5 separate regions of the Homo sapiens genome follow, and all the other regions are linked to region 4. Evidence: fine-mapped expression QTL. A gene starts in region 4. Each other region holds a variant in brackets. All regions are shown on one strand. Distances are from middle to middle.

What was found.
Region 1: its variant is fine-mapped to the expression of HYCC1 in iPS cells (HipSci, PIP 0.95).
Region 2: its variant is fine-mapped to the expression of HYCC1 in tibial nerve (GTEx, PIP above 0.99).
Region 3: its variant is fine-mapped to the expression of HYCC1 in monocytes after LPS (Quach 2016, PIP 0.95). The same link has a PIP of 0.9 or more in monocytes after Pam3CSK4 and monocytes after R848.
Region 5: its variant is fine-mapped to the expression of HYCC1 in whole blood (TOPMed, PIP above 0.99).

What each region holds. Positions count from the first base shown.
Region 1 is chr7:22,926,097-22,931,096 of GRCh38, reverse strand. It overlaps a transcript of HYCC1 not described here. Among named protein-coding and RNA genes, the nearest start is that of SNORD93, 72 kb to the right of the region's middle. The variant A/G (reference allele first, on the strand shown) is at 2,176.
Region 2 is chr7:22,840,801-22,845,800 of GRCh38, reverse strand. No RefSeq gene overlaps it. Among named protein-coding and RNA genes, the nearest start is that of SNHG26, 11 kb to the left of the region's middle. RefSeq lists an enhancer at 1,597-2,097. The variant T/C (reference allele first, on the strand shown) is at 2,937.
Region 3 is chr7:22,972,842-22,977,841 of GRCh38, reverse strand. HYCC1 (hyccin PI4KA lipid kinase complex subunit 1) reads left to right here. Exons shown (of 11, transcript NM_032581.4): 5 at 421-501; 6 at 1,034-1,149; 7 at 1,537-1,632. Among named protein-coding and RNA genes, the nearest start is that of HYCC1, 39 kb to the left of the region's middle. The variant A/G (reference allele first, on the strand shown) is at 2,937.
Region 4 is chr7:23,012,227-23,017,226 of GRCh38, reverse strand. It overlaps HYCC1 (hyccin PI4KA lipid kinase complex subunit 1), which reads left to right and starts at 3,097. Exons shown (of 11, transcript NM_032581.4): 1 at 3,097-3,302. RefSeq lists enhancers at 2,767-2,946, 3,107-3,296, 3,714-4,395 and a silencer at 3,487-3,756.
Region 5 is chr7:22,942,265-22,947,264 of GRCh38, reverse strand. It overlaps HYCC1 (hyccin PI4KA lipid kinase complex subunit 1), which reads left to right. Exons shown (of 11, transcript NM_032581.4): 11 at 1,102-5,000. The coding sequence ends at 1,676. Among named protein-coding and RNA genes, the nearest start is that of HYCC1, 69 kb to the left of the region's middle. The variant T/C (reference allele first, on the strand shown) is at 1,917.

The DNA.
Region 1 (5,000 bases), 86 kb after region 4:
TTCATTTGCAGAGACACTATTTCCAGGTAAGATTATATTCTGAGATTCTGTCTTTCACGTTATGATGCAAACTGTGGGTTTATCTCACATGTTCTTTATCACATTGAGGAAGTTGCTTGATATTTGTAGTTTGTTGAGTGTTTTTAAAATCATCATGAATGAATGTTGAATTTTGTCAGATGTTTTCTCTGTAAGTATTGAGACGAACATGTAGTTTTTGTCATTTATTCTATTAATATGGGGTAGCACATTAATTTATTTTTTGAATGATAAACCAACCTTGCATTCCTGGAGTGAAGCCCACTTGGTAATGGTGTAAAATTCTTTACACCATAAAAATTCTTTTTATGTTTCTTTGATTATTTGATTTGCTAGTATTTTGTTGAGGAGTTTTACATCTCTACTCATGGGGAATATTACTCTGTATTTTTATTTTCTTATGATGTTTTTTCTGGCCTTGTGTCAGGGTAATAGTGGCTTCAAATAATGAGTTCCCCCCTTCTCTATTTTTTGGAAGAAATTATGGGGTATTGTTATGAATTATTCTTTAAATGTTTGGCAGAATTCACCAGGGAAACCACTAGGCCTTCAACCACAGTATTTTCTTTGTGCAAAGTTTTTTTTGATTACTAGTTTATCTCTTTACTTTTATAGATCTGTTCTGATTTTCTATTTCTTCTTCTTTCTTTTCTTTTTTTTTTTTCTTTTTCTTTTTCTTTTTACTTTGTTTCTAATTCTTTTTTTTTTTTAATTATTATACTTCTAAGTTTTAGGGTACATGTGCACAATGTGCAGGTTTGTTACATATGTATACATGTGCCATGTTGGTGTGCTGCACCCATTAACTCATCATTTAGCATTAGGTATATCTCCTAAGGCTATCCCTCCCCCCTCCCCCCACCCCACAACAGTCCCCGGTGTGTGATGTTCCCCTTCCTGTGTCCATGTGTTCTCTTTGTTCAATTCCCACCTATGAGTGAGAACATGCAGTGTTTGGTTTTTTGTCCTTGCGATAGTTTGCTGAGAATGATGGTTTCCAGCTTCATCCATGTCCCTACAAAGGACATGAACTCATCATTTTTTATGGCTGCATAGTATTCCATGGTGTATATGTACCACATTTTCTTAATCCAGTCTATCATTGTTGGACATTTGGGTTGGTTCCAAGTCTTTGCTATTGTGAATAGTGCCGCTATAAACATACGTGTGCACGTGTCTTTATAGCAGCATGATTTATAATCCTTTGGGTATATACCCAGTAATGGGATGGCTGGGTCAAATGGTATTTCTAGTTCTAGATCCTTGAGGAATCGCCACACTGACTTCCACAATGGTTGAACTAGTTTACAGTCCACCAACAGTGTAAAAGTGTTCCTATTTCTCCACATCCTCTCCAGCACCTGTTGTTTCCTGACTTTTTAATGATCACCATTCTAACTGGTGTGAGATGGTATCTCATTGTGGTTTTGATTTGCATTTCTCTGATGGTCAGTGATGATGAGCATTTTTTCACGTGTTTTTTGGCTGCATAAATGTCTTCTTTTGAGAAGTGTCTGTTCATATCCTTGGCCCACTTTTTGATGCGGTTGTTTGTTTTTTTCTTGTAAATTTGTTTGAGTTCATTGTAGATTCTGGATATTAGCCCTTTGTCAGATTGAGTAGGTTGCAAAAATGTTCTCCCATTTTGTAGGTTGCCTGTTCACTCTGATGGTGGTTTCTTTTGCTGTGCAGAAGCTCTTTAGTTTAAATAGATCCCATTTGTCAATTTTCACTTTTGTTGCCATTGCTTTTGGTGTTTTAGACATGAAGTCCTTGCCCATGCCTATGTCCTGAATGGTATTGCCTAGGTTTTCTTCGAGGGTTTTTGTGGTTTTAGGTCTAACATGTAAGTCTTTAATCCATCTTGAATTAATTTTTGTATAAGGTGTAAGGAAGGGGTCCAGTTTCAGCTTTCTACATATGGCTAGCCAGTTTTCCCAGCACCATTTATTAAATAGGGAATCCTTTCCCCATTGCTTGTTTTTGTCAGGTTTGTCAAAGATCAGGTAGTTGTAGATATGTGGCATTATTTCTGAGGGCTCTGTTCTGTTCCATTGGTCTATATCTCTGTTTTGGTACCAGTACCATGCTGTTTTGGTTACTGTAGCCTTGTAGTGTAGTTTGAAGTCAGGTAGC[A/G]TGATGCCTCCAGCTTTGTTCTTTTGGCTTAGGATTGACTTGGCAATGCGGGCTCTTTTTTGGTTCCCTATGAACTTTAAAGTAGTTTTTTTTTTCCAGTTCTGTGAAGAAAGTCATTGGTAGCTTGATGGGGATGGCATTGAATCTATAAATTACCTTGGGCAGTATGGCCATTTTTATGATACTGATTCTTCCTACCCATGAGCATGGAATGTTCTTCCATTTGTTTGTATCCTCTTTTATTTCGTTGAGCAGTGGTTTGTAGTTCTCCTTGAAGAGGTCCTTCACATCCCTTGTAAGTTGGATTCCTAGGTATTTTATTCTCTTTGAAGCAATTGTGAATGGGAGTTCACTCGTGATTTGGCTCTCTGTTTGTCTGTTATTGGTGTATAAGAATGCTTATGATTTTTTCACATTGATTTTGTATCCTGAGACTTTGCTGAAGTTGCTTATCAGCTTAAGGAGATTTTGGGCTGAGACTATGGGGTTTTCTAGATATACAATCATGTCATCTGCAAACAGGGAAAATTTGACTTCCTCTTTTCCTAATTGAGTGCCCTTTATTTCCTTCTCCTGCCTAATTGCCCTGGCCAGAACTTCCAACACTATGTTGAATAGGAGTGGTGAGAGAGGGCATCCCTGTCTTGTGCCAGTTTTCAAAGGAAATGCTTCCAGTTTTTGTCCATTCAGTATGATATTGGCTGTGGGTTTGTCATAGATAGCTCTTATTATTTTGAGATACATCCCATCAATACCTAATTTATTGAGAGTTTTTAGCATGAAGGGTTGTTGAATTTTGTCAAAGGCCTTTTCTGCATCTATTGAGATAATCATGTGGTTTTTGTCTTTGGTTCTGTTTATATGCTGGATTACGTTTATTGATTTTCGTATATTGAACCAGCCTTGCATCCCAGGGATGAAGCCCACTTGATCATGGTGGATAAGCTTTTTGATGTGTTGCTGGATTCGGTTTGCCAGTATTTTATTGAGGATTTTTGCATCAATGTTCATCAAGGATATTGGTCTAAAATTCTCTTTTTTGGTTGTGTCTCTACCAGGCTTTGGTATCAGGATGATGCTGGCCTCATAAAATGAGTTAGGGAGGATTCTCTCTTTTTCTCTTGATTGGAATAGTTTCAGAAAGAATGGTACCAGCTCCTCCTTGTACCTCTGGTAGAATTCAGCTGTGAATCCATCTGGTCCTGGACTTTTTTTAGTTGGGAAGCTATTAATTATTGCCTCAATTTCAGAGCCTGCTATTAGTCTATTCAGAAATTCAACTTCTTCCTGGTTTAGTCTTGGGAGAGTGTATGTGTCGAGGAATTTATCCATTTCTTCTAGATCTTCTAGTTTATTTGCGTAGAGGTGTTTATAGTATTCTCTGATGGTAGTTTGCATTTCTGTGGGATTGGTGGTGATATCCCCTTTGTCATTTTTTATTGCGTCTATTTGATTCTTCTCTCTTTTCTTCTTTATTAGTCTTGCTAGCAGTCTATCAATTTTGTTGATCTTTTCAAAAAACCAGCTCCTGGATTCATTGATTTTTTTTGAAGGCTTTTTTGTGTCTCTATTTCCTTCAGTTCTGCTCTGATCTTAGTTATTTCTTGCCTTCTGCTAGCTTTTGAATGTGTTTGCTCTTGCTTCTCTAGTTCTTTTAATTGTGATGTTAGGGTGTCAGTTTTAGATCTTTCCTGCTTTCTCTTGTGGGCATTTAGTGCTATAAATTTCCCTCTACACACTTCTTTGAATGTGTCCCAGAGATTCTGGTATGTTGTATCTTTGTTCTCGTTGGTTTCAAAGAACATCTTTATTTCTGCCTTCATTTCGTTATGTATCCAGTAGTCATTCAGGAGCAGGTTGTTCAGTTTCCATGTAGTTGAGCAGTTTTGAGTGAGTTTCTTAATCCTGAGTTCTAGTTCATTGCACTGTGGTCTGAGAGACAGTTTGTTATAATTTCTGTTCTTTTACATTTGCTGAGGAGTGCTTTACTTCCAACTATGTGGTCAATTTTGGAGTAGGTGTGGTGTGGTGCTGAAAAGAATGTATATTCTGTTGATTTGGGGTGGAGAGTTCTGTAGATGTCTATTAGGTCTGCTTGGTGCAGAGCTGAGTTCAATTCCTGGATATCCTTGTTGACTTTCTGTCTCGTTGATCTGTCTAATGTTGACAGTGGGGTGTTAAAGTCTCCCATTATTATTGTGTGGGAGTCTAAGTCTCTTTGTAGGTCACTCGGGACTTGCTTTATGAATCTGGGTGCTCCTGTATTGGGTGCATATATATTTAGGATAGTTAGCTTTTCTTGTTGAATTGATCCCTTTACCATTATGTAATGGCCTTCTTTGTTTCTTTTGATCTTTGTTGGTTTAAAGTCTGTTTTATCTGAGACTAGGATTGGAACCCCTGCCTTTTTTTGTTTTCCATTTGCTTGGTAGATCTTCCTCCATCCCTTTATTTTGAGCCTATATGTGTCTCTGCACGTGAGATGAGTTTCCTGAATACAACACACTGATGGGTCTTGACTCTTTATCCAATTTGCCAGTCAGTGCCTTTTAATTGGAGCATTTAGCCCATTTACATTTAAGGTTAGTATTGTTATGTGTGAATTTGATCCTGTCATTATGATGTTAGCTGGTTATTTTGCTCGTTAGTTGATGCAGTTTCTTCCTAGCCTTGATGGTCTTTACAATTTGGCATGTTTTTGCAGTGGCTGGTACCGGTTGTTCCTTTCCATGTTTAGTGCTTCCTTCAGGAGCTCTTTTAGGGCAGGCCTGGTGGTGACAAAATCTCTCAGCATTTGCTTGTCTGTAAAGTATTTTGTTTCTCCT
Region 2 (5,000 bases), 170 kb after region 4:
CAGCCTGCCTCTTTTCTGCCTCTGTGACTGGATCCTTTTCATTTTGCCCGCCTTTTACTGCAGAGCTCTCCAGGGCTCAGTCCTCAGATCTCTGCTCTCCTTGATCCACTCCTGTCTAGGTGATGGCTTCGTTTAGTCATACGGTGTGAAATGACATTTTTATTTGATGAATCTTACATTTCTGTCACAGGCCTAGACTATTTCCTGACTTGCAGACTCATCTCTCCAACTGCCCACTCAACATTTGCACTTAGGTTTCTAAAAGGCATCTCAGAATTAACTTATCCAAAACTGAATTCTTGATTTTTCGCCCTCAAAAACTGATCTTGCCACCAGTAACCCCACTGAAGTAAATAGCTATTTCATTCTTCAGATGCCTGTGGCAGAAACCTGGGCAGCATCCCAGACTCCCCTCCTGCTCTTACACCTTACATCTGTCCATTGCAGCAATCCCAGCTCTACCTCTAAACCCCAACTCTGACCACTTCTCAACCACCCTAGTCCAAGTTTCCATGGTCACCCTTCCTGATGATTTTAACAGCTCTCTATGGTACTTTCCTTCCATCTTTGCACCTGCAGGTTATTCTCCACACAAAAGAGTGAACTCTTAAAACGTAAGTGTGATCATGTTATTTCTCTGCCTAGAATTCTTGAGTGGCCTCTCATTTCTTTCAGTGTAAAGTCAAAGTCCTTTCAGCGGCTTACATGGCTGTACATGATGTGGCCTCCATCTGCTGTCTGTCCTACTTCCTGACACTCTGTCCTTTTCACATTTGCTCCATGTACACTGGCCTCCTTGCTGTATTTTGAATGTAGCAAACATGCCTGCCTCTGGGCCTTAGCACTTGCTGTTCCTCTGCCCAGAATGCTCTTCCCCCAGGTTTCATTTTGGCCTGCACTGTCTCTTCCTTGAGGTCTCCAGTCATAAGCCACCTATTATGGCTGAATTGTGTTCCCCCAAAATGCATAGGTTGAAGCCCTAACCCTCCATGTGACTGACTAGACAGTATTTAGAGATTCGGCCTTTTGGGAGGTTAGATGAGGTTTTGAGAGAGGGGCCCTAATCCAACAGGACTGGTGTCCTTATAAGAAGAGGAAGAGATACCAGAGGCCCTTCTCTCTCCCCGGCACACATGAACAGAGGAAAGACCATGTGAGGCACTGCGAGAAGGCAGCTGCCCATACTCCAGGAAGAGAGTCCTCACCAGCAACCATCCCTGCTGGTACCTTGATCTTGGACTTGGAGCTTTCAGAACTGTGAGAGAGTGAGTTTCTGTTATGTAAGCCCCCAGTCTGTGGTCCTCTGTTATAACAGCCCAAGTCCACTAAGACACCACGTTAGAACTGCCTCGTATAAAGTGCCAACTCCCCTCATCTCACCCAGCATGCCTGTCCTCCCTAATCTGTTTTTCTCTTCACAGTGCCCTAACTTCCTTTTCTTGTTTGCATGTTTGTTTTTTTTCCTCTTCCCTGAATAGAACATCAGTGCCATGAGGGCAGAGGCTTGTACTCACAGCACCTAGCACTGCGTCTGGTGCATCTTAGGCCCCCACTTAATGGTTAAGTGCCCACGATTGAACTGGAGAAAATTCCACTGTGCTACCATTGCTCCAAATTCTGCAGACAACTACAGGTGCCCAAGAGGAAGAAAGCACTGTCAAAAAGTGAGCACCAGCCACAGTGGCCACCTAATTTATATAGTCTCACTTCTGTCATTCCTAGAACCAATTAAGGATTGCATTTGGCTACACATAATAAAAATCTGACTACAGGGGCTTAACCAAATAGAGATCTCATTTTCCTCACACAACAGTTCAGAACTGGTTCAAAGGGACCCAGGATCTTTCTTTCTGTTCAGCCATCCTTAAAATATAGCTTTAGCCCTTCTAATTAACTCCTCGCGGTCACACATCCTGCATTCTCATCTGCATTCTCAAGAAGACCAAGAAGGGTGAAGGGCAAAGGGCAAAGGTGAATGTCAACTGAGGTAGCCCTTTTAAAAACTGTTTTTTCCTAGAAGCCCTACTTGGTGATTCCCTTTACATCTCATTGGCCAGAACTGTGTTACATGCCCTCCTCTAGCTGAAAATGATACTGAGAAACACATTAAAAAAAAAAAAACAACGCCGGGTACAGTGGCTCACAACTGTAATTTCAGCACTTTGGGAGGCTGAGGCAGGCGGATCACCTGAGGTCAGGAGTTCGAGACCAGCCTGGCCAACATGATGATGAAACCCCGTCTCTACCAAAAATACAAAAATTAGCTGGGCGTGGTGGCGCATACCTGTAATCCTTGCTACTTGGGAGGCTGAGGCAGGAGAATTGCTTGAACCCGGGAGACGGATGTTGCAGTGAGCATTCCAGTCTGGGCAACAAGAGCGAAACTCAGTCTCAAAACAACAACAACAACAACAACAACAACAACACCACGCTAGGCACATTACCACTCTAAATAAAAACAGAGTACTTTTGTAGAAAAGATGCCATGGAGTAATAACAATTGGCTAGGTGTCCAACAGTGTGGGCCTATCCCTGTTTTACAGGAAAAGGCCCGCACTTTTCAGTTCCTGGAAGAGTATAAGCCAGCACCACATTCCAAGTGTCTACTATAATCTGGATGGAGTTCCAGGTAGTGAGAACAGCTTGTACAGAATTTCTGAGTGGACATGAGAAAGAGCTTCCCTGTGGCTGGATCTCGGAGTGGGCGTGTGGGAGAATAATTGCAGGTGAAGCTTTGTTTGGTTCCTTTTTTTTTTTACGTAATTGTTCAAATCAACATTGCCAAGTTTAAATTTCAAGAGGGTAGGAATTGTGACTGCTTAATTTCTGCATATAAAGCCCAGGCTGCCTGAGCCACATGCAGGCAGTTACTAACAATTGACCCTCACAGAAATGGTAATAAATGACGTAAAGCCACTTGATTGCTTTGTCCTTTT[T/C]GATTAACGCATATTTATGACCCACATGTGGTGTGGGAGCCTGGAAATAGCTGCCAGGCCCATCCAGATCTGTGCTGGGTAATTGAATGCGGCAATGCCACAAATGGCTACTCCTAAATCATGCTTTTTGCTTTAGAGAAATTATAATGAAAAATGAATAATCCTTTTATTCTTTCCAGAGAAGTACACAATGTGTATTCAGTTCCTAACCCGTGACATTCCTAAGCATCTGTGTGAACATGACTTCCTGCCTTCCAGAAAAGCAACAGGGCCTGTTTAGGTTCCTTTTGCTTCCATCCTGTGTCCTTTCTCCTCTCCTTGCCAAATGTAGTCTTCAAGTTGGGGCAGCAGCGTCACAAATGCTGGCTTGAGAACAGAGTTACTCTGTATTTTTCTGTTGCTGGTCTGCGCTTCCTGTTGAGCCCATGTTCTGCTGGATAGGGCTTGAGGTGCCTTGCAGGTCTCACACTTTAGTCCAGTCAAGTAATTTATTCAGATTCAATAATTTAAACAGGCGTTTGAGGTAAATGTTCAGTCTATTTTTGTAACAGACTTAGTCTTTCGGGTTTCTGCTCCCCTTCCCTTTGCCTCTCCAGATGGCATCTGGTGTATGTGTGTGGCGGGGGGAGGGAGGTGCTTACGGCAGGGGAAGGGAAACAGGGTTACGGGGTTGATGCACATCCTCACTGGCCTCTGCTGGGGTCTGAACTGCCCTCAGGACAGTGACCGCTGAGATGCAACTGTTCCCAGTCTTACGTCGTCTCTGGAGTTTGCTGCTGAAACCTGAGATGTGATCACACGCTCTTGGGTTGGGCAAGCCTTGGGAATCTGCCCTGGACAACTCCAGTCAATGTTGCCTGCTTTGGTCACTCTATCTTTTTTTTTTTTTTTTTTTTTTTTTTAAGACGTAGTCTCGCTCTGTCGCCCAGGCTGGCGTGCAGTGGCACGATATCGGCTCACTGCAAGCTCCGCCTCCCGGGTTCACGCCATTCTCCTGCCTCAGCCTCCCGAGTAGCTGGGACTACAGGCGCCCGCCACCACGCCCGGCTAATTTTTTGTATTTTTTTTTTAGTGGAGACGGGGTTTCACCGTGTTAGCCATGATGGTCTCGATCTCCTGACCTCGTGATCCACCCATCTTGGCCTCCCAAAGTGCTGGGATTACAGGCATGAGCCACCGCACTGGCCCCCTCCATTACTTTCTATCGCTTTACCCTGCTTTCTTTATTGCAATTATCTTTCTCCATCTATTTGTCTCTCAATTAGCTTCTGCTAATAAAACTTAAGTGCCTTTGAAGATTATCATTTCTGTTTAGAGGTCTTCTATCCTCTAGAACGGTGGGGGAGTTATTTCCTTATCTCTCTCTCTCCCCATGTCTTTCTCCCTCCACCCCCCTATCTACACCAATACGTATCTATATCTATATGTATCTATATTAGTCAAATACATGAACTCTAAAATTTAACTTCCTGGATTCAAATCCCCATTCTGTTACTTTTTAACTCTGTATACTTGAACAGGTTGCTTAGCTTGCCTATGCCTTAATGTCCTTATTTGTAAAATAAGGATAATAGCAGTACCTGCTGTATAGGTTGTGATAAAGATAAAATGAGGTAATGTGTAGAAAGAGTTTAGGAAAGGGGCTGGCTCATGGGAAGCACCATGTAAGTATTTGCTGCTGGTATTATGGTTGACTGCTTATTGTTACTATTATCCGCCATTAGAATACAAAGTCCACAGAAGCAGAAACTTTATCTTTTTTATTGTTATATTTTCTAGTCTTTAAGCAATGCCTAACACATAGCAGGCACTTAATAACTACTGTATTGGTTGGGTGAATAAATAAATGAGTGTATTGAGAAACAACAACAACAAAAAGAAAAACACAGTCTTTCAAAAAAGATGACAACCCTTTCACACTCCCTCTAGTAAAAGTTTATGTTTCTCTCAAGGTTCTTCACTACTACTTAGGGCTGTCCTATCCCTAAACTAGTGATAACTAGGTCTTAGGCTTTAACGGATTTTTTTCTACCCGGAAACTACACCACTGTAGGACTACCAAGC
Region 3 (5,000 bases), 39 kb after region 4:
TTGCATTACTAATAGAGTTTATATGTTAATTCGTATGGTATTCTAGATACTTAAGTTTTGTACCTTTCAAAATAGAAAAGAAATATAAGGTCATTTTCTTCACATATTTCATATTTAAATGATTACTTCGCTTAGCAAATATAACTTGTTACATGAGTAAGATCAAGGATTATTAAGACACTGTATCTGTATCTCAGCCATCCTGAAAATTTGTTACATATGTTTTTTAAGTGGAAGGATGTACAGTTTAACTACCGGTGTTGATGAATAATAATGGATTATCATGGTTTAAGGTTTTAACTTAAAATTCCTTTCTATTCAGGTCTTTTTCAAAAAAATGTTTTAGACTATTTAAATTTAGTTTGTAAATTTGTGTGTAAGAAAGTATGTATTTTAATATATTTTCTTTCACTTCTATAGGAAATAGTTGACAAACAGGGACATACCAAAGTATTGAGTTTTACGATTCCATCTTTATCCAAACCATCTGTATACCATGAAGTAAGTGACATTTTATCACAGTAAGTTTATTGACCCTAAGCTTTGATATTGCCACAAGTTATAATCTAGTTATTTAGGAAAAAAATTGATCAATTTATTAGTACCTGCAAAAGTATAAACACCCACAAAGTATTTACTATTTCCAAATTGAGATAAGAAATCAAAATAAATGAACATCAAACTAAAATGTGCTAATAAGAGATCTATTGAAAGTATTCTTTTTGAAATATTTTTCCCTCTTCCTGATGGATGGCTACTTGTGTGTGTTGGCCGGCGGGCAGGGGGGTGGTGGGTGGGCAATTGTGTATTTCCATGGTAGAATTTGTGAAATTAAACTAATTTTTATTTCTCATTTGTGGTTTGTTTTAAAATTAGTTATTAAATCTTCGAGCAGAAAATTTGGTAGGCAGCCTAAATATGTTTAAGATATATGATGTTCGTGGTAGCTATTTTAGTGGTATATATATATTCTATATATCACCTTTTCAGCAGAATAGCTTTTTTTTTCTTTATTCAAATGTCTTTTCTCTAGCCTTCCAGCATTGGGTCCATGGCTCTGACTGAGAGTGCACTATCCCAGCATGGTTTGTCAAAAGTGGTATACAGTGGACCTCATCCTCAAAGGGAGATGCTGACAGCACAGAATCGGTATACTGTGGGGATAAAAATTCTTATCTTAATCCACTAATTTTTTAAGAAAATTATTTCAGTAGACTTATAAATAATGTTTAATGAGTTGTGTGTGACAATTTATTTGAATACTGAGTCATTTTATACAAGAGAAAAACAGATCTAGATTTGTCACTGTGCTTTGCTTCAGGTGTCAGCTGGAACACTGAATTTTAAAGACAGGTTTCATATGGCTGTTACTTGGAAAGTCTTTTTTTCCTTGTAGTTTTTCATTATTGGTGTGCTTATACTGTGCAGGTCTGTTCTGTAACATTGTATCTCTCCCCAAGGAGTGCTCTCTCCCCTATTATAGTTGACTTCTTAGAATTCTAAAGATTTGTTAATATTCTTTTTGTTTGTCTTTAGGTTTGAAGTGTTGACATTCCTTTTGTTGTGTTACAATGCTGCCTTAACTTACATGCCCAGTGTTTCTCTTCAGTCACTGTGTCAAATTTGTTCAAGGTAAAGTAAAATTCAAGTGCTTCTAATATTGAAATATATGAATCTATGATTGCTAGTCTGGTACATACCTAAGTTATTTTTGTTTTGTGTAATCATTTGTTTAAAACATTAAATAAGTTAATGTAAAGCTCAGCCTACCCAACACATGGAAAGTTCCCTATAATTGATAGTCACAAAAAACATGATAAAGGGCCGGATGCGATAGCTCATGTCTGTAATTTCAGCACTTTGAGAACCTGAGGTGGGAGTATTGCGTGAACCCAGGAGTTCAAAACCAGCCTGGGCAACATAGCAAGACCCCTGTCTCTATAACAAATTTTAAAAAATCAGCTGGGCATGGTGGTGCACGCCTGTAGTCCCAGCTACCTGGGAGGCTGAGGTGGGAGGATCACTTGAGCCCGGGAGGTTGAGGCTACAGTGAGCTATGATTGCACCACTGCACTCCAGTCTGGGCGATAGAGCAGGACCCTGTCTCAAAAACAAAGAACACAAACAAAAACAACAAAAACAAGAACATCATGAAGAATGTAAAGCTGAATAACGTTTAAATTGACTATTTAATCAGAAAAGGATTATAGTATATAGCTAAATGATAGAGCTGTTATGACCTTTCAAGTTTTGGCATGTGGTTGGCTTCTTTTTGTTTGCATTTATTTATTTATTTTTACTGTGCTCTAATTTGGAACTAAGAAATAAGTAAGAGATACTGGTTCTTAAACTTTTCTTGTTAAAAATAAATTGAGCCAAGGGGTTATAAAATAAATTATATCCTTGAGTATAGTATATTCACATTTTAAAAATCCTGATTTAAAAGAGTAGTTAATGATAGTATGTATGGTATGATTTCCTGATTGGTTGAATATGACCAGAATATTAACAATGATTATCTCTAGTTGGTGGAATTGTGGTTTATTTTAATTTTCTCCTTTGTGATTTTTTTTGTGATTTTCTAAATTTTTGGTAATGTGAATGTTACTTTTTTTAAAAAGGAGAAACAAAACAAACAAAAATGACAGATTATTCCCCTCGATAATTCAAGTAAATAAGAGATATTATAGAACTAAGGAACATGTGGAATAATTTCTATTTGAGGAATTTATTTAGAAAATGCAACTTATCCTGAGTGTATTAGTCCATTTTCATACTGCTATGAAGAAATACCCGAGACTGGGTAATTTATAAAGGAAAAGATGTTTAGTGGACTCACAGTTCCACATGGCTGGGGAGCCTCACAATCATGGTGGAAAGTAAAGGAGGAACAAAGGCACGTCTTACATGGCAGCAGGCAAGAAAGCATATGCAGG[A/G]GAACTCCCCTTTATAAAACCATCAGATCTCATGAGACTTATTCACTATTGTGAGAACAGCATGGGAAAACCCAACCCCATGATTCAATTACCCCCTGACTGGGTTCCTCCCACGACATGTGGAGATTATGGGAGCTACAGTTGAAGATGAGATTTGAGTAGGGACACAGCCAAACCATATCACAGAGGACGGGATCATTGAGCAATACTTAGAAATGAAATGAAAACAAAATAAACAAAAAATCAGAACTTGATACTGAATAGGATAGAAAGCCATGCAGAATCAGCAGAGGAAGAGAATTCACAAGACAAAGGGCTTGGTAGAGAAGATAGAGACGTGAAGTCTTTCAGGTGTTTTCCAAATTAGAGCATAATTACATTTCCTAACCTTAAAAGATGGTACCAGTGGTTCATCTCTCCCACTCACCAAGTCGTTCTAAGATGTTTTTTGCTTTAAATTGTTTAAAGGCAGAAATGTCCGGACTTTTGAATTTCACAGATCTGTAAAATCTCAAAAAAGGTGGAACAGCTGGGTTATTTACATAAGTGTTGGCAACTTTTTATTTTGCCAAGTCATTATATTGTAAATGTCTACCATCAACATTATTTAACAAAAGGGAGACTATTTTAATATCAAAAAGGTGGGAGGGTGGAAGGGAAGGAAAATAATTTATAAGTTAAAAATGGGATAAGTTTAGCTTTCCTTGCTTTTCGTTTCACTATGGTCTAGTGAAAACTCTGTTATCGACTAAAATGGGTATAAGGACCAACATTCAGAAATACTGGTTTAAGGAGTAACAATGCAGCAATTTTCACCTCTAGAACTTAGAACACACTGCAAAGTCCAGGTCCTACTTTGAAGCAGTGTATTAGATGGTAGGATCCAGGAATGCCTATATATGTATATATTTGTATTTTTATGTATTATATATAAATGTATTTTTTGAAGCTCCATAGATGTTCTAATACAGTGCCCAACCACTCTTGACGTTTCCCTGAAACTACTGACGGAAAAGTTAGAAAAGAACATGTGTCACTGATTTTTAGCCTATCTAACTCTAACGTAGTACATTCTAATATACTTACTTTTATATTATGAGTAGAAAATTGCTAATATACCAATTTTACCTGACCAGGGAACTGAATAATTCTTCAACAGAGAATGCAAGTAAAAACTGGCTTTAAAAACAAAGAGAAACAGATTATTTTAAAACTAGCTATAGGATTTTGGCCAAGGAAGTTTTGGTAGAAATAGATCAATTTATGCCACAAGAGAAATTAATTTCATGTAAATGTCCACCAGCTGTGAAAAAAAACAAGAGTGGGGGAAAAGATCTAAGTAATTTAAAAGACTTAAGCTATCTAAATAATGCTAACTCTTAACTACAATGTGTTATATTAGAGGAACTCTATCAAATTTATCATTCCTGTCATTTTTAGTTGTTTATGTCTTTAAGTTTTCATTTTAGATTCCCTATTGACTGTATTCTCAATGATAAAATCCAGTTATTTATTTCTCTTACCTACTGGCTTTCTTAATCATTTATCAGATATTCTAATTAGGAGGTTTTGTACATTTCTAAGATGAATAGAAAAGAATTAGAAAACACTTTTGTTAATCATGTTAAGCCTAGTTCATATCTATGGAAAGAAAATTGGTTACAGAACTGTGGTGATAAGTAAGTTAGAAATGGTTATACCAGTTAAAGTACAAGAGCTTCTTAATGATCTTAGCACTAACACAGGTTTTCCTGAAGATGAAAGTGATCCTGCTGTTACATGGGCCATCTAATCCTGTTTGCCATGTGATAGTTGTTTTAGATTGCTGCTCAATTTGGTTGATGACTATACCAAAATGATTGACTGGGTCATCTAGGAGAAAGGATACATAAATACAACCAGAAAAAATTCATGGGATAGATGAACTAGATTCAGTGACAAATGTGTTACAGTCTTTTTTTAATCTTCTGATTTTAATTAGTTATGAAAATAATTAAAACAATCTTGAACACTTCCCACCCTCCACCTATGCTCACACAAATTCATTCTACTGAGCAAAAATCT
Region 4 (5,000 bases):
AGTGATTCTAATGAGCAGACAGGAAGCCACAAGGCAAAAGGAGAAAATCTGAACAACTGAGCTTGCCTTCAAGGTGTTCTATTATCTATCTGCAACCTAGCTTGCCAGGCTTGGCTGACTCAAGTTGCCTCCCATGCCCTCTGAACATTGCTTGTGCTTCCCCTCTTGTGTTATTTCTCCAGGCATTCTGGGAGTTACTTTCTCACCATTTTATCTGGTTCAAATTCCTCCCCAGTTTTCTAGACCCAGCCCATTTTGCCTTTTTCATGAAGCCTTCCCTGACTGCCCTTGACTGCAGTGCTTGCATCCTCCTCTGAAAACACAGCGGCTAATGCCTAGAAAATCATTTGAACAATGAATCGATTATGTACTGCCTTATGTAATCTCTCCACTGCTGCATTAAATAATTACTTTAATCTTTGCTTAACCTTTCATCTGTTTGTTATGCAGCTAACTATACTATAAGCAAGCTTCTAGCATTCATCTGTATCCTTGACAAGCCACGTGCCTTGTACAGTACAGGAAGTCAATAATATTTACCTGTCCCTTCCATCCTGACTTCCACAGGTTTGGTTCGAGATTCTCTCCTGGAATCTTGTCCTGGTCTTGGCTGGGCTTCCTGCCACCAGAAACTTTGGCTCTTCAAATCAGGTCAACACATTACTGGCACACATGGCCAATGGCCAGTAAAACTGATGGTGTGTGTGTGTGTGTGTGTGTGTGTGTGCATGCGCGTAGGTGTGCACTCTTTTGCCCACTCTTGTTTCTCTCTATCTTATGATCTGGCTGACTCGGTTTCTTTCCTTCCTTGGTCCCTCACTCTCCTACTCAATGGGACTTGACGGCAGAATTCAACGTCTCAGGTTTTGACTGCTTGTGTTCTCTAAGATGAATAACATGCTGCCTGGATCTTCCTCTCCCTATTTCTTTGAGTAAACACTTGTCCTGAACAGGCTCTGGCCAAGGGGACCTAAATTAAGTCAGTCTGATCTGTCAAGAATTTCCTCTCTACCCTGTTTTTTTTTCTTTGGATTCTCACCATTTAAAAGAAACCTGATTGCATTGTCCACATGATTAAAAGCTGTTGTCTGTCCCTCATTGCCTTAAGAAGAAAATCTAAACCTGAGCTATCCAATATGGGAGTTGTTAAAGTTAAAATTAAAAATTAATGCCAGACATGGTGGTTCACACCTGTAATCCCAGCACTTTGGGAGGCTGAGGTGGGTGGAGCACCTGAGGTCAGGAGTTCGAGACCAGCCTGGCCAACATGGTGAACCCCTGTCTCTACAAAAAATACAAAAATTAGCTGGGTGTGGTGGTGAGTTCATGTAACCCCAGCTACTCAGGAGGCTGAGGCAGGAGAATTGCTTGAACCTGGGAAGTGGAAGTGCAGTGAGGTAAGATCCCACCACTGTACTCCAGCCTGGGTGACAGAGGGAGACTCTGCCAAAAAAAAAAAAAATTAAAAATTGAGTTTCAGCCGTGTATGGTAGTTCATGTCTGTAATCCCAGCACTTTGGGAGGCTGAGGTGGGAGGATCACTTAAGCACTCTACCCCAGTTTGGGTGACAGAGTGAGACCTTGTCTCAAAAATAAATAAATAAATAAATAAATACATTGAGCTCTTCAGTCACACCACATTTCAAGTATTTGATAGCCACATGTGGCTAATGGCTACTATTTTGGACAACACAAATATAGAACATTTTCACCAGTGCAGAAAGCTCTGCTGGACAGTGCTTGTCTGAATATCTTAGTGTAGCTTGTGAGGTCTTTTACAATCTCACCTCAACCTTTTGCTCCAGCCCAATTTTTGGCCGTTCCTCATCATTTAACCCCATCTACCTTCTCAACATTCCACAATGGCTCTGTGCCCTTTCACAGCTCCATGCCTTTGAACATGGTGTTCTCCCTTTCTGAAATACCCTTTGACTTTCTTCTCTGGCAAACTCCCATTTACCTTTTAAGATCCAACTCAAACATTACCTTCCTTGTGGAGTTCGCTGACTTTCCTAAACAGTCATTTCTTGTCCTCTGTTTCCATTGCTCATTGAACCAATCTCTATTGTCCTTATCACTGTAGTTTGTTATTATTTACTCATTAATCTGATCCTCCCTTTGGAGGGGGATCCTATCTGTTTTAGCAATCTGCCCTAATAATTACCTGAAATTGTTTGCTTGATACCCTTTTGATATCAAGTAATATATCTTCTTATTTATGTGCTTGTTATTTATGAGTTCAGCATGTTTGAAAAGTTCACTTAGTGTTTCTGGAGAAATCCTGCCCATTTCTAGTGTAAAGCTAGAATGAACTTCCTGTCTTCTAGGGTGGAGGTCAGTTTTTCTTCTAATTAATCCTGACCAGTCTTGAGAAGGATGTGGTAGGAGAGGTTTACAAGGTCAAAAACAGCAGTACTGTCTGCAGGCGCAGGTTCAGGTGTTCTCGGGTTCCAGTTATTATACAAAACATTTAGTATATGTTCAGAGAAAAAGTAGGGAGGAATGATGGAAAAAATAAAAACAACCCCCATGGAAAGAAAACTGAGGCATCGTATTTGACTTTTTCCAGGCTAAGCCCAAAAGCAATGATGTAGTGAGGGGGAAGTTTGTATTTCCATTTTGCAAAAACGTAATTTTTTTTTCCTCCCGGGATTTGATAAGATTTTGATAAATTCTTGTGAATTTAATTACAGGGAAGTAAATCCTACTGACTAGTAAATTATCAATTTGTTTCTCTTTTCTCACAAAAGAGAAACAAATTGATACCCTTCACATCATCCGGTAAGGTTTATTTTTTTCTGAGAAGGCCATAAGCCCTAACGGCTCAGAATCTAAGAGACCTTCGCTGATTGTCATCGCCTAGCGGCCACCGCAAACCTTACAGTCAATCAACTTCCCTCGGACGCCCGGATCACGCCCATTGCTCAGACCACGCCCACTCAAGGCGCCTCATGGCTCCGCCCCAGGCCCAGCAGAAGAAGATTCTCATTGGTGGAGAAGTTGTTCTGATCCCGCCCCGGAGGACGGCGATAGGCTGAACTGGCGTGGGGCGGTGGTGGTTGGCTGCTTGAGGACGGGTCCCTGGTCGTGCCTGTCAGAGAGGCTGGCGGCAGTGGTGGCTCTCCCGGCTGGGTTGTCAGTCAGTGAGAGGAGGGGGAAGATGGCTCACCGGGACCCGTTCTGCTAGGAAGAAGGGGAGCAGGTGGTGCTGCTACTCGGGAGGAAGCAGAGCAGCCTCCGTCGCTGTCGCTGAGAGCCTCACGAGTCGAGGTCCTGCAGGTGGAGCTCCGGCAGCCGCCCTGGTGAGTCCAGCCGAGAGACCCACGCCGGGCCCCCAGGGCGTCCGGCAACGGATAACTTTTTTTTGTCAGGGAGGAGCCGGGGCGAGGCGGCGGCGAGGACAGGACCGGGACTTTGTCCCTGGGGCCGCGGCTCCACTGGGGGTAACGGCTCCCGCGCGAGGCGCCATGGGTGGGTGCGAGGCGGCGCGGGGCGCTGGGGGCGGCTGGCGGGCGGGTGGGCTGCGGCCGGCGCTGCTCGCCCCGAAGTTGGGCGCAGCCTGCCCGCTGCCTGGAGGGCGGCAGCTTTGTGCGCGCGACTCGGGTCTTTCCTTCCCGGCGAGGAGCAGTCCAGCCTCCTGCTGTGACCCGGGTGCCGCCGCCTCGGCCCCACCGGCCGCCCCTCTGCCGGGTGGGCCTGGGGCGGGAGCCCCCCGTCCCCTCCCTGCCGCGGCGGATGCTCTGGCCTCTGCCTCCTCTCCCACTCGCGCCCTCTACTTCGGCGAGGCCGCCACTGTCCGTCCGGTCTGGTGGCCACAATGGTCACTGTCGACCCCCCGCCCTCGCCCCCTGGAGAGCAGCGTTGGCCCGAGTCGGTCTTTGGTCCCCTGCAGGGCGGAGAGGTTCAGACAGCAGCCACGCTTCCTTCCTTGGTTATTTCGCTGAAGATCTCTTCTTGAGCCCTTGCCCCTTCTTTCTATGAGTTATTCCTCTCCTGAGGCTCATTTTAACATACTCGGGAATCCTCGGGGGTTTGGCTGAAAATGGTTGCATTAAAACACCCCCAAGTTTGTACGCTTCCCCGAAATTTGCTGTCTGCCCGTCAGCTTGCACATGTGTGCTTTGTGAGTTTAGACATTCCTGAAAGATTTTAATTTTGCCTAAGTGGTTTAGTACTGCACAGAATCTGCTCTCTGAGAAATACACTATCACAAGCCTGGCAGCCGCGGCGCTCTTCAGGTAGGGGGAATTTGTTCCACCGGCAGCTACTTCTTATCTCAGAGACTGCCCTACAGGCAGTAGGGCCAAGCTGACCTTTTGCAAATTATTTATCCTTGGATCACACAGTAGTTTTTGGAGCAGGTGGGCCACCTCTTTGGTTCATGTAACACTTTACAGTTTGAGGTTTTCAGCTTTCAAATCTTATTGCCATAAAGTCAGAAAGACTGGGAGGCTTGTTTTCCATGAAAACATTCTACTGCTAACATCCACAGGCACCCCACCTCCCCCGACATTTCCAAGTATTTTTTTTTCTTTAGGTGAATACATTTTAAGGTTTACAGGATGAATAGTAGTCTAAACCACCATATTTTTGAAGTGCAGGCAAAGACAAGGAAGGAAAAACATTTAAGATCTGCTTGGCCAATAGTGGCTTCAAAGTCAGCTATTCAAATAATCAGTTCAATCAAACCAAGTGGCAAGGGGGAAAAGCATCACATATTTAGGAAACAAATTCTGGATTTGGCTCGTTTATCCTTATTCGATTTATTGAAATTACCATGAGGGATTAGAAGGATTAGAAACCTTCTTAGTCATCGGCATTAGCAGTACCTGGATACAGACACCCGATAAGGCATTAGCTGGGTCAGCGTTTATCCTTGCTCTGCTTCCTTTCATTGTTGTATTTCTGTTTTATGAAATTTGCTCTGGGTTGTATTTTTTAGACTGGTGTCTTTGACGGTGAGTTTAAATATATGTACTGTTTTATTCAGCATCCTGTTG
Region 5 (5,000 bases), 70 kb after region 4:
ATCATCTTCAATTCTAGAGCAACCTGACAACAATAATGATGCTACTGAATTGGGCATCCTTGTCATTCCTGAGATTAGTGTCACAAATGTGGCCGGAGAGAGAACCGGGAATGGGGAAAAAGGCAGAACACTAGGAGAGATTGATGCTCAGCATATACAGGGTGTGCAGGAAACAGCCACAGATCCTAGAACTGAGAGCAAAGGCTTGCCAGAGATCAGGAGGCAAAAATCTGTAAGAAAAATGATGGAGGATGGAATAAACTCACCTGGCAGAGTGCAGTTTTAGCAGAGCACTTTATAACTGCACTCCAAGGTATCTTAAGGCAAAGGGCCACTGATGCATGTTAAGCAGCAGTTGCACAGTCACAAAAATTTTGCATGTAATCTAATCCAAATGCATGAATTATGCACCACATTTCTCAATGACTCTTAATGTTCTTTGGAATGATTATACCTTTATCGTCTTTGAGTAAATTTTTATGAAAACTGAGGCAGAAAATTCCTTCTAAAATAATTTTCTGCTTATGTTTGGAGTTCTAAAATTACTTTTTCGGCTTTGTCTTTTTGCCATCTTTGTTATGAAGGATAATGTGTATAGAATTTTATGTTTGAGCTTGTGATATTTAGAGTCTAGATTTTTTTAATTTGATAAAATAATCTACAATATAGAGTACAACCTTCTAAAAAAGTCTTTAAAGTATTCTAATACCAATTTTTTAAAAGTTCCTTGGTAAGAGCTTTGATTTTATACTGCTTTGCTACTGAAGGAGAGTTCACCCCTAGTTTTACTGCGTGATATTTCTAATTGTTTCTTATCTTTTGCATGAATAGGAGAATTCTTTCTAAAAACTTAATGGGGTATGGTTTATGGCATGCTTTTTGTTTAATACACTATAAATTACTGTCATTTAATTACAGTGAAGTATTTTTGACATTTTATAATAAATGTTTTGATTTATCCTTTGATTTTCTATAATCTGTTGCTTTATAAATTATGCTAAAGCTTAATTTATGTAAAGCATAACTGATTTGGTGTTAATCATTTAAAAAGATTGCTTAAAATACTTAATGTTAATTAATCTTTGTCATTTCTTTGTTTAGGAAATACAGAATTAACAGGTCAAGAAGAACTGATGGAGATATCTGAAGTTGACGAGGGATTTTATTCCAGGGCTGCGTCTAGTACCAGCCAGTCGGGTTTATCAAACAGTAGTCACAATTGTAGTAACAAGCCAAGTATAGGAAAGAACCACAGACGGTCAGGAGGAAGCAAAACTGGAGGAAAAGAAAAAGAAACTACAGGGGAATCTTGCAAAGATCACTTTGCTCGAAAACAAACTCAGAGAGCCCAAAGTGAGAATCTTGAGCTTCTCTCTTTGAAGAGACTTACTTTAACAACCAGCCAATCCCTACCTAAGCCTAGTAGCCATGGTTTGGCTAAGACCGCAGCGACTGTATTTAGTAAATCCTTTGAACAAGTCAGTGGTGTCACAGTCCCACATAACCCGTCATCTGCTGTTGGTTGTGGGGCTGGGACAGATGCCAATAGGTTTTCCGCTTGTAGTCTCCAAGAAGAAAAGCTTATTTACGTTTCAGAAAGAACTGAACTTCCAATGAAGCATCAATCAGGTCAGCAGAGACCTCCTAGTATTAGCATTACTCTGTCCACAGATTAATTAGTAACATATTTTTCTCCCATAACCTAGTGAACCTGGAAATACAACTTTGCTTCTTTATGAAAGTACCCTGGGTCTTTCATCCGTATTCCTGACAGGAGCCCTGATGTCTTAAATTCTGAAGGCTCCCCTGACTTTATGAAGGGAAGATTGTCTAGGTTGCAGTAAGTTGAAATATGGTTTTGTTATTTCTTGATTAAGATTTTTTCCCCTTGGTTTGAGTCTTTTTTTTCCCTCCTC[T/C]TATTTGTTATTGTTGCCCTAAGATTGTCAGTGACAATAAATTTTGACAGGTTGTCTAATCAAGTTGGTTATGTCTCATGTGAGGTTGTAAGGTGGTTTTTCTTGTTTTGGTTTGGTTTGGTTTTTTAATAGCTCCTATTTTGATGGCTGTGTGTTTGGCCTTCAGAGTCAAAGGGAGTCTGCATGTATGGGAACTGTTTTATAGAGAATGGGGCAGAGGCACAACTCCAGGAATTCTCTAGCTCCTGGTCAGGAAGCCAATCTGAAAACAGGCATGTGGAAACACAAAAATGATGTGTATGAAAAGCACCTGATGAAAATATTTGTAAGCAGATCATCTTTATGATTAGAACAATTTGCTCAAAGCCCTGGAAAATGCCTGGTAACCCAGTGCCTAGAATATTATATGATTCCAGGGGATGGCTAGAGGCATTTCTGTTGTTATCTCTGAAACATTTTTATATCAAAAATCAGATTGCTGGTAGGTGTGTTGTTTTGAAGTGTTTTATCTGGATTTAGCATGTGAAGATCCCTTTCAATTATTAAGGTATAATAGGCTGTAAAGCTGATTTACCCTACTGCTGGACTTTGGAAATCCTAGTTAGTTTGGACTCCTATAATTCAGAGCATACGTCATTGGAAGACTTCCTGGAAATCAGTGTAAATCTTGCAACATAGCTCTCAAGATACCACTGTATAATATGTAATTGTTTGTCTGCAAATGCATTTTTCATCTATAAAATGTCATGAAAGAAAATAAAGGTAGTGAAATATGGACAAAGGACATTTATATATTAACTAAAGTTGTTTATGTTTGTGTTCTTAAATTTAAAACACGAAGAAAAAGAAATGTCTTTCTTGTTAGTGAACAGGCCTGTTTTAAATATCTTAGTATGATATCAAAAGAATAATCAATTTAGTTACCTCCCAACTAAAAAGTAAAAATGAAAAAGACGACATGGCAGAAGTTGAAACAAACTTGTATGTATCTGTATGTGACCTCTAGATGGAAATAAAAGTTTGATGTTTGCTAGCCGTGGTCCTTTTGGCTATGGTTGCGGTTCCCCTGTAAAGCAAATGTACTTAAGTCATCATTCAGAGTGAGAGAGAGAAAGCACGGCTGAGGCTGAGTCAGTTGACCGTTGAGGAAGACCTAAGGAGCTGTCCAGTTCTTGGCTCTTTTTCACTGTGACTGCACAGCGGTTTCCTTCTTCATAGTCCCTTGCTGTAGTCACCAAGAGAGCATGCTAGTGTTTTCCTCTTGTTCCTGCTTATGCAGAGCTCAGATATATGAAAAATTTGTATGCTTTGAAGGCTGCCAAAGCATTTATACTCTGGACATAGTTTTAACTGCAACTGCTTTGGCTACCAGTTTAAACCGAGTTCTTCAAAAAGCATGAACTCGTTTTCATTCATTAGCCCTGTTTACAATGTGGATTTTGACATAAATGAATTTGATTTTCTTTTAGCTCCAGTAACAGAATGGAATAAGATCTATTGCCATAAATTGTAGTTAAGAACTGTAAGGCAATCGGGCAGTGAAACTTGATATTGTATTAACTTAATAGGAACCCTGTGTACAATTTAAAATATTTGTAAAATATCACTGTGAATTTACAGATGTCTTTTTGTCATTCTTTAACAATGAATTTCCCCTGTGCATAGTTATTAATAGTATTGGTATTATTAAAAACTAATTTGGCATTTTAAGATTGGCATTTTAAGCAAGTTGAGGTGCTTAGGAAACATTGTAGAATAAGTTTGGGGAAATGTTAGCTGACAGAGCTGAGAGATCAGATTTTCATGTTCTATCACTGTAATGGAACCTCATTTAGACCTCTCTAGACCTTTGCTAGCTGTGTGGTCTGAGGACCAGTAAGTAGGATTGGCATTATCTGGTATCTTGTTAAAAATGCAGAATTTCATGCCACTCTAGGTCTACTAAATCAGAATTTGCATTCTTAACAAGGTTCCCAAGTGATTTTTATGAGAAGAAAGTATCAGAGTGCAAACAAATTACTCGTCTAATATGTAGAATTCCCAGTGGTCTCACAGCCCTAGATCAAATGTGTCAGACACTAGATCATTATAATCTTCATTGGTTTTGACAGCTAATTAATTAGTTTAATAATATTGACATATGGCTTCTTAAGTATTTGAATTCTAGATTGCTAATGATCCTTATTTTTGCAGTAAAAAAGTAACACTTTATATTTTTCTTGTTAACTATAAATGGAATCAGAGCTGTAAATGCCTGAAATTTTAAGTGTGAAAAGGGGTGCCACCCTTTTATATACTGCACAACAAATTTGCATTTGTATATTCTTTTTAAAAAATCTCTGAAGACTTGCTCAGTGAAATGGTTCTGATTTTTTGCTTCAAATGATTTGCACTAATTGATTTTCTGGAGAGCGGAGTTACGTTAACAACAAAATTCTTTTATAGTTCCTTTGATACTATTTCAAATAAGGATTACACATTGAAAGTTTTTATAGAAATTATGAAAATTGGATAATCTTAACTATGGTAACCATTACTATTATCCATACTACTTTCTCCCCACTGAACTTTCAAATTTGAAAATTGGGGTAGCTTTTGTAGGTCACTTTCTTATAAAGATGCTGATGGTCACAGATCTCCTAAGTATCCAGAATAATATTTTTATCATGAGAAGGATTCCACACAAAATTGGGGTCTTGCACCCCATATTTCAGAGGATCTGAACAGAAATTGTGGCTTCATTGCACATTTTAAATCTCTATAGATTCTTGAAATCACCCAACCTCTCACATTTGAAAACCCAACGGCCTGGAGTATTCTGGTGGCACTGGAGCCAGCACTAGCTTTTTGGAATCCAAGTGGGGAGAGAAACAAAAATAGACTTTTCAAGGGACTGTCCCAGACTACCCAGGGCAAATGTCTTCCCTTCCCTTCCTGAAGCCACAGGAAAGCACCCTGGAGTCCTTTGTATACCACTATGGAAATTTTTAAGGCAAGCTCTCAAGACTTGAAGAGTTGGAATTCTCGGCATTTAAATGATGCCTGAAGTTTGTTTTGAAAAAGCAATATTTCATTGCTCTTTTC